Regions from separate parts of the Homo sapiens genome. Here region 2 is linked to region 1. The links come from fine-mapping of genetic effects on gene expression. A gene starts in region 1. The other region holds a variant in brackets. All regions are shown on one strand. Distances are from middle to middle.

Evidence for each region. PIP is the estimated chance that this variant, and not a neighbour inherited with it, causes the effect. A credible set is the group of variants that fine-mapping cannot tell apart.
Region 2: its variant is the best candidate, but not a certain one, in a credible set for the expression of SKP1 in whole blood (INTERVAL, PIP 0.63).

What each region holds. Positions count from the first base shown.
Region 1 is chr5:134,174,475-134,178,474 of GRCh38, forward strand. It overlaps SKP1 (S-phase kinase associated protein 1), which reads right to left and starts at 2,476. Exons shown (of 6, transcript NM_170679.3): 1 at 2,381-2,476. RefSeq lists enhancers at 1,857-2,136, 2,227-2,476, 3,380-3,894 and a silencer at 2,627-2,706.
Region 2 is chr5:134,123,194-134,127,708 of GRCh38, forward strand. The region is part of intron 3 of TCF7 (transcription factor 7); the gene reads left to right. Among named protein-coding and RNA genes, the nearest start is that of TCF7, 11 kb to the left of the region's middle. RefSeq lists an enhancer at 4,284-4,515. The variant G/A (reference allele first, on the strand shown) is at 2,702.

The DNA of each region.
Region 1 (4,000 bases):
TTCAGATCCAAAGAGTACATCAGAATATGCTCATTTATGTCTGAGGCAATGCAAGACCATATACAAGAGAATAAAATGATTTAAAGATAAGCAGATGTGAGTACAATTCCCTAAATCTACTTAAAAGCTTCATTTCAGAGCCCTTTTTATCTTTCAGTACTGACTGTCCAGGTGACCAACTTTGAGATCTCTTGGCAAGATCTCCATAATAATAACCTATTACTTGCTCTGAAAACGCATTTATTAATTCAGATTAATTATGAGTCGTTAGGAAAAAGATATAATCTTACATAAAAAGTTAAGCATTTAATTTCAAAGGACTTGAGTTCTGGCAAAAAAAAAAAAAAAGGCATTTAAAATTAAAAGTCCAACAATTTCTTACCATCTTCAAATTCTTTTTTTAAAAAAGAAAACATACAAACAAGGAAAACAACAACAACAAAAAGAATAGCAATACCTGGTACAGATTAATTCAAGGCCTCTTAAAACTCACATACAACTTTTAAAAGGCCCATGCTTCTCAAGTATTCATAATCCGGTGATGTCACTATTAACTTATGGCACCTCTGAAGTTTTCTAGGTGTGTTGTATTACAAATCGCATATATTTTCCCAAAAGTGTATCATTTGGCATTTAAAACATGCATCACACCCATTTTATGTTCAAAGACTTATGACCCATTACATCGGTTAAAATATTCATTCAGCTTCTCTGAGACAATTGTCGCCAACCCCAAAGCAAACAGGTTGTTAGGCAAAGGAAGCAAAAAAGTAAAGCATGTTTTAAAACCAGCCACTGAAATATCCTACTCTCACTCATCCATAGTTGGAGAGAATCAGATTTCACTTTGCGATTCACAAACATGTCTGCTTCTCCATGTTGCTTAGCGCTTGCCAATAATGCAGTTGTCCCTGCTTAATGGAGAAGGATGCAGAGTAGAGGACCCTTCCTGTGACAAGACCACAACAAAAGGTATCTCCAAAAGAAAATATTTTAACCTGAGCCCAATTTTTAATTATAAAACATTTAAACATGTAATTTTTATATTAGATAGTACTGAAATGAACAGTGCAGAATCACAAATCTAACAATGCAGTTGATTAAAATTACTCTAAAAGCAAGACGACCGTTTCATATTTCTTTCAAATAACTCAAGATAAGTGCTTAGTCATAGTCAAGTTTGTGGATTGGGTTACTCTTAAGGGAGTTGAGACCTTACTAAATAGCAGCTGGTCAATCGGTTAATCTGTAATTCGATGCACTTGGTAATACTAAACTCAAAGATAAGTTTTAGTGTTACAGTAGAATAAAGTGCAAAATTTTTAAGTAATAATGGATGAAATATTTATTTGAAATGCTTTCAAAACAATTCCATTCTAAAGAAAGAGGCCTAAAGGCTCCTGCACTTGTAAATAATTCTCCATGGCCAGCATAAAGCGGGTTCTATCACATCATATAGAAAAAAAAACCCCTGCGCTTTAAGTGACCCGAAATTCTGACACTGCTTTTTAGACTGCACAGTGGAGGAGACGGTATTGTTCTATGAAACGGATACATTCTACTGTCACGCTCTAAAGGAAAAATGCATGTCCCTAAAACCCAAACGTGAAGTTTCCATTAAAAGTGAATCAAAGCAGGTAGACGTCCTATTTCTTTAAAAGCCAGATACCTAGAGTTAAGTTATACACAGTTAAGGCTCCTACAAGTCACACCACTCTGACGATGGTATCTGCTCAACGACTCCAAGTCATGGCAAAACAACGCTAAGAAATATTCAGATGGAGCAGGCGGCTATGTGCAGAAAGCCGGCGCCCGCACACGGTTAGCCAGGACCGACCGGTAGCTAGTGACGCCAGACACGGTGGAGAAAGGATGGGAGCCAAGAACCGGGCGGCCTCAGACCACCACCGCAGCTCTCCCTCCCGACCACAACAAAAGCCAGACACCGACACACGCCCACGCTCACGACAGCCAAGGGACCCCCATTCACAACCCCGCCGCCACCCCCGCCCTGGTCCCCGGGACAGCAGGCTTAAGACCAAGAGAGGCCCCCGGCCGCAGCCTGGGCCTTGCAGCCGAGCTCCGCGCCGGCTGACGCTCGGCCGGTGCAGAGAAGGCCCAGCCCGGGGTTCGGCTCACTTATGGAGCGCCGTGAGGACGCCCGGCCAGAGGAGGCCTCGCTGAGTCGGGGGCGGGGCAGGTGAACGGAACCTGGTAGGGTCTCCCGAAGAACAGGGTCGACAACGCGATCCACCGGGCCCGAAAGAAGGCCAGGCCCAGTCACCGCCCGCCGCGGGCAGGCCCAAACCGCAGCGGTGAGGCCAGCCGGCACGCAATCCGGTAGCCACGACCCTTTCCAGTTCAGTGGGCGGCTACTCACGGTGTTCGGTGTTAAGGAGACGGCCGGCGGGAGGCTGACGAGAGCCGGGAGGCGTTAGCGAAGGAAGAGAAAAACCGAAGACGAAGCCACTACAGCGTCGCAGCGCGGCGCGGCGTCTGCTTTATAGGAGAGGGCGCAGGCGCCGAGGACCCCGGGGCGCGCGGCGTCACATCGCGGCTGGGCTGGCCGCCGAGATCGCCTGACGGCAGGCCGAGAACGGCTGGGCGGGCCCAGGCCGGGAGGCGGCAAGGAGCTGCCGGGGGCGGCTGGCCGGGGGATCGGGGGGCCGGAAGAGTTTTCGCCTCTCCCCAGCTCTGAAAGCGCCGCGCTGTCTCGTCAACTGGGTGCCGGACCCCGACTGGCCTAGAAAGGTCTTTCAGGCAGCGGTGCCCTAAGCCGAGTGAAAGACCCCAGTTAAAAAGCCTGGAAAAAACAAAACCGGGCGAGTGTGTGCGTCTCTGTGTGTGTTCCTGGGAACAACAGAACGGGGCGTGTGTGTGTGTGTTCACTCCTGGGGGGGGCTGCGTGTGTGTGTACGCGCGTGTGTTCATTCCTGAGGTGTATGTGCGCGCGCGGGTGTGTGTGTTCATTCCTGGGGTGGGGTGGGGTGGGGGTGGGGCGCTTGTGTGTGTGTGTTTTACTACTGAACTGATACAGCTTGTCCAGCTTCCATTCTCCACGGTAACCCTCCGAGGTGAAATAGTGTTAGCCTTTTCGCCTCTGCAGTGAGGGAACAGGTTCGGAACGGTTAAGTGGCAGAGCTAGGATTTGAACCTTACTCCACAATTAGGTGCTGTTAGCCCTTATTTCCTACTATTGACTTCTAAAGAGGCTTCCATGCCAAACATAGCCATCGTTATAGGGAAACCCCAAGTCTAGAGAGATGGCTCCATCTAGCAGTAGGTACCTACTCCTTCACTAAACATGCTTTGAGCCCGACGTGCGAGGCGTGGTGCTGGGGATTCCGCCGTGAACCAGGCAGCCAGGGCCCGGCCTGGACGTAACTCTTCTCTAGGGTGCTCCCAGGAAGGCTTTGATGAGGTCGATGGAATGAAGCCAGCTGTAAAGGAAAGGGAGTAGTCTGAAAGCCCCACCCTGTTCTGCTCGGGAACATTACTCTCCCCATCCTAGGAGACTGGGCGCCGGGCTCGCCTAGCCAACAGGCACGTGATGATATCCCTGACACCAGGAAGACAAAAGATACTTCCACACAGGGCCCCCTGAAGAAACCAGAGATGTACAGTGCCTCTGGGATGGGACTGGGCAGGAAGGCCAAGCAGCTCCTTGAGTTACCAGGTCTTTGTCTACAAGCCTATCCAGTGTCTGCCAGGTGCCACAGCTGATGACAGAAGATGAAACGCCTGCAGCTCTCAGACATTTTCTTTGCAGCACAGCCCTGCCCTCAGCAGCTCTAGCTTCAGGCCTCCTAGGCAGGGCCCACTGGAGCCCCTTTGCTCCCCGCCTATGGCATAGAAGGTGGTACCTTATTAACTCTCTTTAAGCATTCTAAGCAGGACTGTGCAGTGTCAGGTCACACAGCCCGGGGACCCAGCACAGGGTCTGGCATAAAAGTAGGGATATATTTTTCCAAATATGTCTGAGAACCCCCTTTATTAGAAT
Region 2 (4,515 bases), 51 kb before region 1:
TGGGGCCTTGGCTGCACTTTCCTTTCCCAGCTCCCCTGGGGCAGTGCCCTCTGGCCTACCCTACCCTTGGGCCCTCAGCCTGTCGATAGACTACACATTCTCTGCTGTAATCTTGGGTCCATACCCCGACTGAGCCCCTTCTCTATACTTCGCCTGGCTCAGCATGTGGCGGGCTCCCTCTGCCCTTCCAGAGCTCAGTCCTGGGAGACAAAGAGACTTTCACTGGGAGCCTCTAAGTCGGCTCTGAGATTCTGCTGGAGTTGGGAAAAGGGCACAGAGGAGGGAGAGGCCAGTGGGGGCAGCAGGGGAGGCTCCTGAGAGAGGGGCCTGCACAGGTGAGAGGGGGAGAACACTCTGGGTGGGGGCCCCACTGGAACAAAGGAGGAGAGAGGCAGAGGCTGGCATGCTCCATCAGCAGAGGGGCAGACAGAGGCCCAGGGTCTACGAAGGATGTGCGGTGAGACTGGAGAAGAAGGTCCCAGCCTGTGACCTTGGTGCTGGGGCAGCGCTGGTTCCAGAGCCTGGGAGAAGCTGATGGGCGCATGCAGCATGTTGGCATCATGGTAGGGCAAGGCGGTACCCACCCACAGATGGTGTGAATTGGACATGGCGGACAAAGGCGGGGAGAGCCAGCTGCTGGGGCAGGGTGGATGCTAGGAGGCATGGGGATCATGGGAGGAACTCGAACAGAGCCAAGGGAGAGGTAGGCTTTGGGTGGAGAAGACCCAAGGGTGTTGGGCAGTGCAAGGCAGGGGTACCTCAGAGGTGAGAACTTTCCATTTTCCCATCCTTCCATTTGACCCTCATGCTCTCTCGGGGTTCGGGATCCTAGGGTCTGGCCCCCTGATTACTGAGGGGAACTCTACCCCAGAGGTCAGTGGCTCGCTCAGGTCCCAAGGCCCATTGGTGACTCAGCCAGGGTGTGGAGAGCATCTCTGACCAGCTCTGTCTCTAGCAGAGCTCCAGGGTCCCAGGGGCTTTGGCAGGGGTGGAGGGTGGGCATCTCTGAGAAACCAGGACATTGTCAGCTTCTTGGTTCAGGCAGTTTGCTGTCCTGTTTCGCAGACCTGTCATGCTTGGGGTCTGGACCTGGGAAACCGCCTTCCTCCCTTAAAAATGTGTGGCCTGCTTCTGCTGCTGCACACAAGCTGTCTACAGCCTGGGTGGGCTTGTCCTCCTCAGAGGGTTCCCCCTTCCCCTGCTTTCTGCTGGAACATGGGGCTCCTCTTGCCCAGTTCCCCAGGGAGTAGAGGGTCTCTGTCCCTTGCTGGATAGGGACTCTGGCCTGGGGTGAGCCTGAGTCTGGCCTTCTCCTGGGAGGAGGTCACCTGCCTGGGCTCTGCTAGCAGACTACTCTAGAGCCGGAGCAAGCCTGGGGACACAAAGCCCTCACCCCGCAGCCCCAACTCCATAGCTAGAACTCCCTAGAGATCAGAGGAGCAGACACTCTGCCAAATAAGCTTCCTCCTAACCCCCCCGCCCTGCCCCCCATTAAAACCACTAGCTTGCTCTTCAAGGGCAGGAAAGCTGTCTGGGCCCCACACCATGTGCTTCCAAATGATGAGTGTGCGGCAGAGGCTCCAGGCATGGATGGGCAGGACGTGGCCCCAGGGAACAGTGGGTGTGGACTTTGGGGGTTTACACGGTTAGGCCTGCCCCCACTCCACCATGTCTGAGCTGGTTTGGGTGCCAGTGGTGGCAAATCACCTCCTCCCAGGAAACCCAGTTTTCCCATGAGGGCAGGGAGCTGTGATGGGAAGGAAGCCATCCCTCCCCCTGCTGTGTGACCTCACGCAAATCTGTGAACCTCTCTAGGTCTCAGTTTCTTAAATGGGGTAGGAATCCCTGGCCATGGAGAGGCCTGTGTGCTGGGTGGGCCTCAGCCGGGGTTTGCTGGGCAGCTCCTTGCAAGCATTGCTCCAGAGCCAGCCTCCCCACCAGGCAAGAAGGGGTCATGGGGAGGGAGGGACAGGTGATGGGAGTCTAGGCCGAGGGATTCTGACTAACTCTGACCTGGCTCTGGTGGCAGCGGGCCCAGCCTCCTGGCCTGCTGGGCCGCCATCTGAAACGCATTACTGATGCTTTGTAAACTCCACATCATTTGGCCACATGAAAGCCTGGGACTTAAAAATAGCTGCTCCCAGAGGACGCCCCGCATTGGTGGGGCTCAGCTGACCTCTGCACGCACACCCACCCACCACCAGGCCACCTCCCTTGCCAGGGAGCCCCGACTGGCAGGGCCCCACCCACTCACCCTCCCAGTGTGGGCAGCCACTGCCTGGAGCCAATTTATCTGGGCACAGGTCTCACTCAGCTGGTGAAAGCTTCAGGCCCTGTGGCTGTACCCAAGGCAGAATGTCTGGGAGAGCCAGGAGGAGGCTGCTGAGGGTGAGGTGGTGGTCTCAGGACCCTTCCCCAGGCTTGTCATGCCTGGAATGCTGGTAGGAACCTTATTGGAAAGCTAGTGGAACCATCTTACAGAAGAGGACACAGTGGCCCCAAGGAGGGGGAGCACTGGGAGGGTGCTAGTCTGGTGTTTACTTGGCCACTGTCCAATGCTGGACGAGAGTCACTGCCAACATGTTTGTGAGAGTAGGGCAGGGCCTGCCCGGGAGACCCCGGTGTCCGGTGGAAAACCCGCTAAGCAGGAGGCAGGGCAGCACAGGCCTCTGAGCTGCTAGGGTTGACTCTTTGCCCTGCT[G/A]TGTGGGTTCCCTCTCCTTATGGTCTCTATGACCAACTGCAAACCACTCTTTTCCCTAAAAATAAACATGCTTATGGGACTGGGGGAAGCTTTGTAGCTATCAAAAGAAATAATAGGGTGTTTTAGAAAATTACATTGTGTTTTAAATAACCAGCATGAAAGTCATTAAGTTTGAAGTTTCATTCAAATCAGATGGCTCTGTGGCTGGCGTGGTGGCCAGGCAGGCAGAGGTGGGTGGGCCCTCTGAGATGCTGAGAGGCAGCCTGTGGAGAGCCTTGCGGCAGTGGCAGCAGTGAGGTCTCTGCTGGCTGGGTACAGCCAAGGTCCAGGCGGGCTGGCCACCGAGTGCGTGCCTGGCTGCAGCAGCCACCCCAGAGCTCGCTGGCAGCCTTTGAGGCAGTGGGCATCCCCATGGGCGGGGGTGTGGGGACAGATGAACCTGGGAGAGCCAAGGCCACAGGGTCGATGGCCATGTTGCAGGGGGTGGTGTTAGGGATGGAGTTGGGACCAGAAAGGGCCGGAGAGGATCTGTGGGGCCCAGGCCACATCTGTTCATTTCACCACTGGGTTCTCAGTGCCCACCCTAGGGCCTGGCACACAGTAGGTGCTCAGTAAGCAGTTGTTGAAAGAATAACAACAACTACAGTAGTTCATGTGTCAAGCACTTCCCAAGTGCCAGGCCTATGCCAGGGGCTTTTACTCATATCAAGATTGTACAAGTCGGTAGGGCACAGTGCCTCACGCCTGTAATCCCAGCACTTTGGGAGGCCAAGGCAGGCGGATCACGAGGTCAGGAGTTTGAGACCAGCCTGACCAACATGGTGAAACCCCGTCTCTACTAAAAATACAAAAATTAGCCGGGTGCGGTGGCACACGCCTGTAATCCCAGCTGCTCAGGAGGCTGAGGCAGGAGAATCGCATGAACCTGGGAGGCGGAGGTCACAGTGAGCCAAGATTGCACCACTGCACTCCAGCCTGGGCGACAGAGCTAGACTCTATCTCAAAAAAAAAAAAAAAGATCGTACAAGCCAAGAAAGTAGGTATTATTGTGGCCTCCCTTTTTGCAGATGGGGAAACTGAGGCTCAGAGAGGATAAGGAATGCGCTGATACCTGGCAGAGTCAGGATTTGAACTTTGGTCTGTTTTACCCTGAAACCCATGCTCCTCCCTGCTCTATCCCATTTGCTGTACAATGTGTGGAGATGGGGGCACTGCGGGCCAAGAAGCTGGGTGGTACCCCCAGCACACTGTCAGGTTCATAAGCTGGACCCAGCTGGATTCCTCTGGCCCCAGAGAAAGGCCATAGTCCTCTCACTCCCTCTCCAGGGGCACCTCATAGCTCTGGGCCTGGGTCAGGGATGACCCCTTTCCTCCCCAGACACCTGGCAAGTTCAGGGCTCCCAGGGCCAAAAGGGCTGTCTTTCTTACTTGAAAGGCAGGTGCCCAGGGCTTCTAGAAGGAATGTTATATGGAAAAGTATCCGTAAATGACATTAGGATTGATTCCGATTTGGTGCCTGATGGAAGGACAGTTAAGACCTGTCTACAGGTGGATCACTTCCTCTTTCTAGTGTTGGTCCTGATGCAGCTCAGTGCCTGCTGTTGGACTCCTGGGCCAGGCACCCTCCTCTGTGTGATCCCGGGCTGGGCTAGGGGGTTTCCTAGGCTCTGAGTCATGGGAAATGGCTGGACTGAGGCAGCTGAGGGAGTCTCAGGGTATGGGTGCGCCCGCCCACCTTATTCCCCCGTGGGAAAGCCGCTTAGGAACCAGAGCCGCTGCCAGCCCCACTGGGGCACGTTGAGGGCAGTTTCTTC